3 linked regions of the Homo sapiens genome follow. The protein of the gene in region 1 purifies or fractionates together with the protein of each later gene. This does not show direct contact. Each region holds a gene or a part of one and is shown on either strand. Other genes may lie near its edges.

Region 1 (3,730 bases):
GATTATTTTAGCAAGCAGGTGGTTAATTTCCAAGGAATGTAGTTACTTCTTTGGGATTTTTTTAAGTGATGTATTAGTTTTCTGTGTATTTTATTACTTGTTTGAGTGCACCATTACCCCCGTCTCCCGGGGTATCAGTTCATCTGCTTGCATGCTTGGTGCCTCTCTCTCCTGCTGTCAGCTTTCCTGATGTGCTGGGTATTTCCACGTGTGTGTTGGTTTTTTTTTTTTTTTAGGTACCCTAGGCATTAGTCTTTTAAGGCTGCATTCTTGCAGCCTGTCCCACATGAGATAGGAGGAGGGCAAGACCTGGATGTGCACAGGGCAGGATGGGCCCATAACTGGTCTGTGTGGTGTGTGGGTGGCAGGAACTCCCTGTTCTTTGTGGGTATGGCCATGCCTTCCCTATTCAAACGAAGCCACACACCTGTCTTTTCCTGCGAGGCGTCTTCTGCTGCTTTCTTGGAGCTGGGGAGCATCTACTCTTCCCTTGTCCTCCCGCTCCTCCCTGTTCCTCCCTCAGGTCTCTGTCGCTTCTAAGGCACTCCACCCTTGGTCTTCTCCCACCTTGCACCCCCCACACTGCTGCCTGCCTGCACAGGGGGACTGTGATTGCCCCCTTCAGTGTGAGCCTGACCTGCTTCATGCCTTTCAAGGAGAGCATTCATTGCCAAGCTACTCATGGAACATCTCCTCAGATCCTCAGCGTGCTATGACTTCATTTTCTGTAATACTGTTTTTCATGTTTCTTCCCCTTCTCTGCATTTATAGCTGTGCATATGCTTGAGGTGGAAGGCCACCACTTCCTTTTGGTTAACAACACCAATCAGCTGATGGTCATGGCTACGTGAAGGAACTCACAGTGAGGGCTCAGGAAGAGCCTGGCTAGAGCAGGCTGCATCGCAGGCCTTGGCGTTAGGTTCCCCAAATCACTGCTGGTGATCTTGTAGCTCTGTCATGAAGTCTGTCCTGCTTATTAGGATACCGAGGGTCCAAATTCATAGATTCTTAGAAGCCTGTTTAAATATGCAGAGTATCTAATTCAACCCGATTAGAAACGGGCTCAGAAAGGTGAAGGGATTTGTCCAACCACTGAGTGATGCTGCTGGGATTAGAACTCTCAAAACTAGGTGTTTCTAATCCAGAACCAGAATCCCTATCCACTACTCTAATAAGGCGTAAAAGAGGATCTGCTGTCCTGCCTAATTGGTGGGCAGGTTTGGAGTCCTGTCAGCAGCTCAGGAAAGCCTGGAGAGGCAGAGGGAGGACACAGGCTCAGTGTCAGACATGCCAATTTTACTCATCACCAATGGTTACACAAAACTTGTTTTGATCTTTGTGGCTTTTGCATTGAGAAGTTAAGCATATACAATAGGAATTAGACACAATCCCAAACCAATGAGAGACTCAAGTGAGAAGAGCTGAAGCTTTTATGCATGCCTTCCTTCCATAGAGATAAATTTACTATCCAGAGTGAACTAGAGCCTCGTGGAAAGTGAGTGCCGAGCCCCTAGCTGTGAGTGTCTCTGTCCTTCCCACATCAGACCTCCATGTCTGTGGCTGTCCCCCTACGGGGCAGAACTGCTGCTCTCTGCTTGTGTTGCTGTCGTGAGGGTTGGGAGTGGACAGGTGTGGACAGATCTCAGACCCGTTTCCCTCCTGTTATGGAAATGTTTGTGAGGCAGGTGGGACTTCAATGATTTGGTCAAGGAAAGGCAGCTTGGCAGCTGGGGAGAAGGGCTCAGGCTAGAAAGGCAAGCGTTTGTGAGGGATGATTTCCCCAAAGAAGCCAGCAGTGTGTAAGGTATTCCCCGGAGCTTGTTTCTTCTCAGAAGACTCTGGAAGCTGTGTCAGTGTCTGTTATGGAGGAATGGAGTATCAGTCCGATCAGGCTTTCATAACAAAGCACCACATACTGAACGGCTTGAACAGCCCAATGTGTCGCCTCCCAACTCTGAGCCAAAGAGACTGAGGTCAGGATGTCCCAGGGTGGCTCCTTCCAAGGGTTGGGTGGGACAATGTGCCCCCAGCATCTCCTTGGCTTGTGGGTGACCATCTCCAGCTCCACATGGCATGCTCCCTGTGTGCCTGTCTCTGGGTCCAGATCTCCTTTTCATGTAAGGACACCAGTCATGTTGGAGTAGGGCTCACCCTAAGGACTTCAATGGGGCGTAATCACTGCTGTAAAGACCCTGTCTTTAAATAAGGTCACACTCAGAGGGGTTAGGGAGTTAGGACATCAACATTTGAACTTGGGGGGACACAATTCAACCTGTAACAAATGTGTGAGTGAAGACTGGCACCTCCCCACGATGGCCTTTCTGTGATGCCATCAAGAGCACCAGGGAGCTCTCCAGATATGGAGATGGACAGATGTCTAAGGCCCCTGAAATGAGCCTGCTGTACAGATGATTCCAGAACTCTGTCAGTGTGAAGACCAAACACAATTAAGCACATTAAAATACTTACGGTAAAGTGTTTCTTTCACTTTAGATGTGCAAAAACTTAAAGAGAGAGAGACTTATGAGAAGACTCAGGGAAGAAATGTAAGATAAAGGTGTTAAGGGAGACAAACTCCACAAAATTGTAAAGTGAAGCTGCTGTGGGGAGTAGAGCCCAGACCCAGATAATATGCAGGCATGGGTCCAAGGGAGGCTTTGCACACCAGGCGGGGGAGGTGCAGGGCCATGGATGAATGGTCTTGGGAAAACGGCAAATCGTTTGGAAAAAAAAACAAAACTTTGCTCTTTATATCAAAATAAATTCCAAGCTGAACAAAGAATAAAAATATAGCATTGAAATAATGAAGCTATTAAAAGAAAACTTAGGTGAGTTTTAAAATAATTGTGAAGAGGCCTGTCTAAATGTGATAAAACATATGAATTTATATTCACACTCATCACAAGATTGATAAGCATGATTTCCTAAAATTTTAAGCAAATCCCCATAAAATGAAAAAATATACAAATAAGTGAAAAAAATGGTAAGATATATTTAATTTCAATACTTGTGGTAAAGCATCAATAGCTTTAATATGCAGCGAGTTTTTTCAAATCAATAAGAAAAAAGACACAGATGGGTGCTGACAGGGCCGTTTGGTAATATCTTTTAAAATTTAAAACACAAGTGCTTTCACTCAACAACTTCACTTTTAGGAACCTATCACACATATAAATTGACAAAAGTGGAGAAATATTCATTGCAACATTTTATTTTATAATAGCAAAAAAAAATCACTAAGGGAAGTACAGTTGATTCATATGTTGGAATCCTATGCAGTCTTCTAAAAAATGTGGAATTTATTTCATACACCAAATATAACAATGTCCAAGTTCTACTAGTGAAAAAGCAAGATGTAACATATCATTGTATTTGTTTAAAAAACTCATGCTGGGTTGGGTGCAATGACTCATGCCTGTAATTCCAGCACTTTGGGAAGCCAAGGTGGGTGGATTGCTTGAGCTCAGGAGTTTGAAGCCAGCCTGGGCAATATGGCAAAACCCCACCTCTATGACAAATACCAAAAAAAAAAACTAGCCTGGACTGGTGGTGTGCACCTGTAGTCCCAGCTACATGGGGGCGCTGAGGTGGGGGGATCACTTGAGTCCAAGAGGTCAAGGCTGCAGTGAGCTGAGATCATGCCACTGCACACCAGCCTGGGTGACAGAGCAAGACCCTGTCTCAAAAATAATAAGTGAAAAAAAAAAAAAAAACCTAAAAATCTCCCACA
Region 2 (3,500 bases), on another chromosome or scaffold:
ATGATTCTCCTTCCTCATTTTCCCGAGTAGCTGGGACCACAGGTGTACGCCACCATGCCTAGCTAATTTTTGTATTTTTCAGTAGAGACGGGTTTCACTATATGTTGGCCAGGCCAGGTCTCAAACTCCTGACCTCAGGTGATCCACCCACCTTTGCCTCCTAAAGTGCTGGGATTCTTTTTGAGATGGAGTCTTTGTCGCCCAGGCTAGAGTACAGTGCAGTAGCACAATCTTGGCTCACTGCAACCTCTGCCCCCCAGGTTCAAGCCATTTTCTTGCCTCAGCCTCCCGAGTAGCTGGGATTACAGGTTTACAGGCATACACCACCACGCCCAGCTAATTTTTGTACTTTTTAGTAGAGACAGAGTTTTGCCATGTTGGCCAGGCTGGTCTTGAACTCGTCACCTCAGGTGATCCACCTGCCATGGCCTCCCAAAGTGCTAGGATTACAGGCGTGAGCCACTGTGCCTGCCAACTCTTAGACTTCTCAAAGCATGACCCATTCTTTTTATTTTAATTCTACTTTTTGCCTTGGTGATCTTATCAGCTCCCATGGGCTCAAATTCTAACAACTCTTTGTGGCATTGGTGGTACAGTGATAAGCATAGCTGCTTTCAAATCCTAACAACTTGTACATTTATATTCCTACTCCAGATCTTTCTTTTGAGTTAGCCTTATATAACTGTGTATCCCTTGCCATCCCACCCCTGCTTTTATATCTCTGGCATTTCAAATTCAGCATGTCTAAAACTGAAGGTCTAAAACTTCTCTGTCCCCTATGCCCCCCCACCCCCCGACCCTGAAAATAACACATACAACTTGGTCTTAAGCCCTCTTCCACTATTCTTGTCTCAATAAATGACCCCAACAGCTACCTGGTTTTCCAGGCCTGATACCTACTTTATTCTTCACTCTCTACAGTCACTAAATCCTGTTGATTCAACTGCTTCCATCTCTCATCAGTTCTTCCCCTTCCATCCACACCCATTGTCATCACCCTTGTCCCAGCCACCATCTTCTCCCACCTATCCTGTTTGAACAATCTTAATTGTTCTCCCTGCACCTGTTACTCTGCCTTTTCATTCATTTTCTGTATAGCACCCAGAGTAATACTTAAGAATCAGGAGAAATGGGCTGGGCGCAGTGGCTCACACCTATAATTCCAGCATTTTGGGAGGCCGAGGCGGGCAGATCACGAGGTCAGGAGATTGAGACCATCCTGGCTAACATGATGAAACCCTGTCTCTACTAAAAATACAAAAATAAAAAATAAAAAAATTAGCCGGGCATGGTGGCGGGCGCCTGTAGTCCCAGCTACTCAGGAGGCTGAGGCGGGAGAATGGCATGAACCTGGGAAGTGGAGCTTGCAGTGAGCTGAGATTGCGCCACTGCACTCCAGCCTGGGTGACAGAGCAAGACTCCGTCTCAAAAAAAAAAAAAAAAAAAAAGAATCGAGAAATGTATTAGTAACTTGTTAAAATGCTTGTTTGTGTTTTCACATTACCCTGGGCTTTTTACTGTGCTTTCAGGTGTCCACTTGCGAAAGCAGCATTCCTATATTGAGCAAGGCAAGAAATGCCGTTACTGTGATGCTGTGTTTCATGAGCGCTATGCCCTCATCCAGCATCAGAAGTCACACAAGAATGAGAAGCGCTTTAAGTGTGACCAGTGTGATTACGCTTGTAGACAGGTAGGAACCTTCATTGAAAGTTGTTGGTGCTTTCTCGGTGTCTGGTGTTATCAGAGGGCATTTACATATCTAGTACAGTGGCTGTTTTTAAAGATAGTATTTTCAAACTGTGGATTATGAGGAATGTCACCAAAATCAAAGGTCATGCTCCTTGTCAATTGTGTCATCCCGGTGTCCAGATGATGTTTTATTCAGTCACAGCTTACCTCTTCCTTAAGCAGACATCTTTCTGAAAACTGTGGAAAGTAAGTCCAGGACTTGAGAGAGGGGAAGAATCTCATGCGGGGACATGACTGTTGGGAGGGAGCCAAAGAAGGAGCTCAGCAGGAATAAGCAGCTCTATCTGTGCTACAATTATGGAAGCAGTTGTGCACCACACTAAAAATACCTTTATCAAGCCGGGTGCAGTGGCTCACACCTGTAATCCTAGCACTTTGGGAGGCCGAGATAGGCAACAGAGAGAGACCCCATCTCTACAAAAAGAAAAAATTAGGGCCGGGCGCGGTGGCTCGAGCGCCTGTAATCCCAGCACTTTGGGAGGCTGAGGTGGGCGGATCACTTGAGGTCAGGAGCTTGAGAGCAGCCTGGCCAACACGGTGAAACCCCGCCTCTACTAAAAATACAAAAATTAGCCGGGCATGGTGATAGACGCCTGTAATCCCAGCTACTCTGGAAGCTGAGGCAGGAGAATCGCTTGAACCTGGGGCGGAGGTTGCATTGAGCCGCGATTGCGCCACTGCGCTCCAGCCTGGGTGGCAGAGCGAGACTCTGTCTCCAAAAGAAAAAGAAAAAATTAGCTGGGGCCAGGCACGGTGACTCACACCTGTAATCCCAGCACTTTGGGAAGCCAAGGCAGGCAGATCATTTGAGGTTGGGAGTTCAAGACCAGCCTGGCCAACCTGGTGAAATCCCATCTCTACTAAAAAAAAAAAACAAAAAAACACGAAGGTCGGCCGGGCGCGGTGGCTCACGCCTGTAATCCCAGCACTTTGGGAGGCCGAGGCAGGTGGATCACAAGGTCAGGAGATCAAGACCATCCTAGCTAACACAGTGAAACCCCGTCTGTACAAAAAATCAGCTGGGCGTGGTGGTGGGTGCCTGTAGTCCCAGCTACTCCGGAGGCTGAGGCAGGTGAATGGCATGAACCCAGTGAGCCGAGATTGCGCCACTGCACTCCAGCCTGGGCGACAGAGTGAGACTCCATCTCAAAAAAAAAAAAAAAAAAAAAAGTCAGCTGGGTGTGGTGGCAGGCACCTGTAATCGCAGCTACTCAAGAGGCTGAGGCAGGAGAATTGCTTGAATCCGGGAGGTGGAGGTTGCAGCGAGCCAAGATCGCGCCACTGCACTCCATCCTGGGCGATAGAGCGAGACTCCGTCTCAAAAAAAAAACAAAAAAAATTAGCCAGGCATGGTGGCTCATACCTATGGTCCCATTTTGAAGCTGCAGTAAGCCATGATCACACCACTGCTCTCCAGACTTTGCAACAGAGCAAGACCCTGTCTCTAAATATATAGCTTTATCATCTCAACAAGCCGTGTGGAGTCTAGACCTAGCTTGGGTGAGAAATACCTGTTGGCCACATGCATGCAGGTGGCAGCTGGGGCAGTAGCCCCATGAGCAGGCTCTGAGGCCTTTCCCCCTATGCCGTTTCAGGAGAGGCACATGATCATGCACAAGCGCACCCACACCGGGGAGAAGCCTTACGCCTGCAGCCACTGCGATAAGACCTTCCGCCAGAAGCAGCTTCTCGACATGCACTTCAAGCGCTATCACGACCCCAACTTCGTCCCTGCGGCTTTTGTCTGTTCT
Region 3 (3,730 bases), on another chromosome or scaffold:
ACAGGATCTTACTCTGTTGCCCAGGCTTGAGTACAGTAGCGTGATCATGGCTCACTGCAGCCTCGAACTCCTGGCTCGGGTGCTCCTCCCACCTCAGCCTCTTGAGTAGCTGCGACTACAGGCACATGCCACCATGCCCAGCTAGTTTTTTGTATTTTTTGTAAAGACAGGGTCTCACTAGGTTGCCCAGGCTGGTCTCAAACTCCTGGGCTCAAGTGATCCTCCCACCTCGGCCTCCCAAAGTGCTGGGATTACAGGTGTGAGCCTCTGTGCCTGGCCTAGAAAGTTTTGTTATCTGTTGCAACAAGGTTCCCCCTTTTGTTTTTCAACATTTTCTTGACAATTTTCATGAATTTTATTTCAAGATGAACCTTACGTAAGGGAACTTGTAGCCCAGACCCTTGTGGCATTGTAAGTAGCTTCTGAGTGGTGCCTCTCTCATGGGCCTCTTTGTGTTTCTCTGGCCAGAGTCCTTTGAATATCCCTAGGCTGGTGATCCTAAAGCTTGGGCTTCTCCATCTCTTTCCAATCCACATGTTTGGAACATGTTTTGTTTTTTTCTTTTCGGAAGCTATAGGACCTCCTTCTTTTAGTCTCTAAAGACCCAAGAGAAGTTAAACCTTAAAGCTTTTGTATTATCTATTTCTGTGTAGCCAATTACCGCCAAATGTAGCAGTTTAAAACAATACATGTTTACCATCTCATAGTTTCTGAAGGTCAGGAATCAAGGGCACTTTAGCTGGGTTGCTCTGAGTTTCCCATAAGGTGGCTGTCAGAATGTTGGCAGGGCTGGAGTCAGCTGAAAGCTTGCCTGCGCTAGAGGCTCCGCTTCCAAGCTCACTCACATGGCTGTTGGCAAGAGGCATCAGTTCCTCACCACAGGAGCCTCTTCATAAGGCTGCTCAGGACATGCCACCTGGCTTCTCTCATAGTGGGTGAGCTGAGAGAGAGACCACGACAGATGCTGCAGTATCTCTTATAGCCTATCTCAGAAGTGGCATACCATTACTTGTAACATACTTTTTGGTTTATACATTCTGTGATATGGAGAGGGAGGCAGCTAGACAAGGATGTGAATACCAAGAGGTAGAGATTATTGGGGGGCAACTTGGAGGCTGGCTACCAAAGTCTTTGTTGGTAAATCTTGTGGGATTTTTTTGGTTTTGATTTTTTGTTGTTGTTGTTAAAACATGCTTCAAAATTAAGAAATTATAAAAGGTGTGTGATGACAAGTCTTCCACCCCTGACCCCTAGTTACCCAGTTCCCTTTCTTCCAGCCAACAATTATTTTTAACATCTTTATTATACTTCCAGGGGGATTTTATACTGATACAAGGAAATGTACATAATATTTTTCCTCTTTTAACATGAATGATAGCATGCTGTACAGCTATTTTGCACCTTGCTTTCTTCACTTAATGATACAGCTTAAAATGGTTCCGAATTGGTGCATAATCATTTCCTTACCTTTTACAGCTGCATAGTATTTCACAGGGGTGTTGTAGCATGGTTTACTTACCCATTTTCCTATTTTTTGGTTATTCTAATTTTTGACTATTACAGTAACAATATGGATTATGTCCTGTGTGTGAGTAATATCCATGAAGTCAGTTCATGGAAGTGGAATTGCTGGTTCAAACATTAGTTTCAGTTATAGTTTTCATGGATAATTACCAAATTGCCCTCCCCATGGACTGTGCCAGTTCTCTTGGCAGCAGTATATGAGAATATCTATTTGCACATACTCTTACCTACACAGAGTATATATCAAACCTTTGAATCTTTGCTACTTTGAGAGACAATTATATCTGTGGTTTTAATTTGAATTCTTCTTATGAGTGAAATTGAACATCTTTTCATATACTTAAGAACCATTTGTATTTCCTTTTCTGTGGTCTGTTCATATTCTGTGCCTATTTGTCTGCTAGTGTTTTCCTTAGTAATCTGTAGGAACTCATTGTTAGAAATTTAGTCTTTTTTGGAGGGGTGGGGGAAAGTTGTTAATATATTTTACATATTTTTTAACATATAGGGTTATTATATGTTTTACTTTTTTATTGTTTTGAAACAATACAGTATCAAACTTTGAAAAAGTTGCAAGTGCAGTACTACAAACTTTTTTTAGTAGCAGTTGAGATTAAGTTGCTGACATGATGCTTCACCATCCCTATTTAGTGTATATTCCCTTCAGATACAAACATTCCACAAAGCCTTCTACATAATCATAGTACAGCCTTCAGAATCGTGAAACTAATACTAATGGTTTTATTATCACGCCTAGCAGTCTCTCTGCTTCTTTGACCCTAAAGGAGAGGAGCACACACTCTAGAGGTAGACTTCCTAGGTTCAAATTCCAGCTCTGGGCCTGGTGCGGTAGCTCACGCCTGTAATCCCAGCACTTTGGGAGGCCAAGGCGATGGATCACCTGAGGTCAGGAGTTCGACACCAGCCTGGCCAACATGGCAAAACCCCATGTCTACTAAAAATACAAAAAATTAGCCGGGTGTGGTGGCACGTGCCTGTAATCCCAGCTACTCGGGAGGCTGAGGCAGGAGAATCGACTGAACCTGGGAGGCAAAGATTGCAGTGAACCGAGATTGCACCACTGTACTCCAGCCTGGGCAACAAGAGCAAAACTCCATCTCAAAAAAATAAATAAATAAATAAATAAATAAATAAATAAATAAATAAATAAAAATTCCAGCTCTGCCACTCACTAGTTGTAGGTCTTTTGGCAAGTCACTCAATCCTACTATGCCTCAATTTCCTTATCTCTTACAAAGGATGTAATAATCATGCCTCCTTTGTAGGTCATTGTGAAGATTAGATGGTTAATGCTTAGAATAGTGGTTGCTGCAATGTGAAAACCATGTTGGTGTTCCTATCATAATAATATTATTAGATGAAGAATAGTTGATAAGATTAAGTTTTAATGTTTTCTAGTAGCCATGGATGAGGTTATCAGAGTTCATAGACTACAATGTAAACTACAAATTGTTCAGCTAATCCAGGATATACTTTTGTTCTTCTCTTTTTAGATTCCAGAATGACTATCTTGACTTACCCCTTTAAAAATCTTCCCACTGCATCAAAATGGGCCCTCAGATTTTGTAAGTTTATTATTATTTTTTTATTTTTAGAGATTGGATTTGGATTTATAAACATCTCGCACAGATACTGAATGGTATTGCTTTTTGTAAACAGTTTATTTTGTCTTCCAGCCATAAGACCTCTGAGCTGTTCCTCCCAGCTACGAGCTGCCCCAGGTACAGTAATTTGTAAAATAAATATTTCTGATTTAAATGTTAGATTCCAGATTCTATAGTTTGTGAACTCTGAATAAAAACCAAAACTAATTTGCTAATTCTCCCCTTTTTATGAGCACATGAACATCTCTGTTGCCTTCAAATTAAAAAATTATAGGTCCAATCAATAATGATACTACATTATTTAGGATTAGGCTTGAGGATGTTAATGGGAGGCTGTTTTCTGGGATTTGAACCTGCTGGAGTCATGGAGGTTCCATAAACCTCGTTGGTCAGTTTATTTATCCTCTTGCTGTCCGTCCTGGAGGTGAATGGCATACAAATGCTCTTGAGACCTGCTATGGAACCAAAAGTTAACTTTAAATTTGCAATTTGTGAAATGCTTCTCTATTGATGAATATCTTCTTCTCCCATGTGCAAGAGGGCCCATTCCTGAAATAGAAGTGATTAGGAACTAGTTAATA

The links.
Region 2: the proteins of SYK (region 1) and CTCF purify together in Homo sapiens (affinity purification with mass spectrometry; one large-scale study listed by BioGRID and IntAct). This does not show direct contact.
Region 3: the proteins of SYK (region 1) and HADHB purify together in Homo sapiens (affinity purification with mass spectrometry; one large-scale study listed by BioGRID and IntAct). This does not show direct contact.

Annotation. Positions count from the first base shown.
Region 1 is NC_000009.12:90,808,243-90,811,972, forward strand, and holds part of SYK (tyrosine-protein kinase SYK), read left to right. Parts: intron 1-3,730. UniProt on the Homo sapiens protein: Non-receptor tyrosine kinase which mediates signal transduction downstream of a variety of transmembrane receptors including classical immunoreceptors like the B-cell receptor (BCR).
Region 2 is NC_000016.10:67,625,026-67,628,525, forward strand, and holds part of CTCF (transcriptional repressor CTCF), read left to right. Parts: intron 1-1,529; coding exon 1,530-1,690; intron 1,691-3,344; coding exon 3,345-3,500.
Region 3 is NC_000002.12:26,251,209-26,254,938, forward strand, and holds part of HADHB (trifunctional enzyme subunit beta, mitochondrial isoform 1 precursor), read left to right. Parts: intron 1-3,038; 5' UTR 3,039-3,046; coding exon 3,047-3,110; intron 3,111-3,221; coding exon 3,222-3,266; intron 3,267-3,730. UniProt on the Homo sapiens protein: Mitochondrial trifunctional enzyme catalyzes the last three of the four reactions of the mitochondrial beta-oxidation pathway.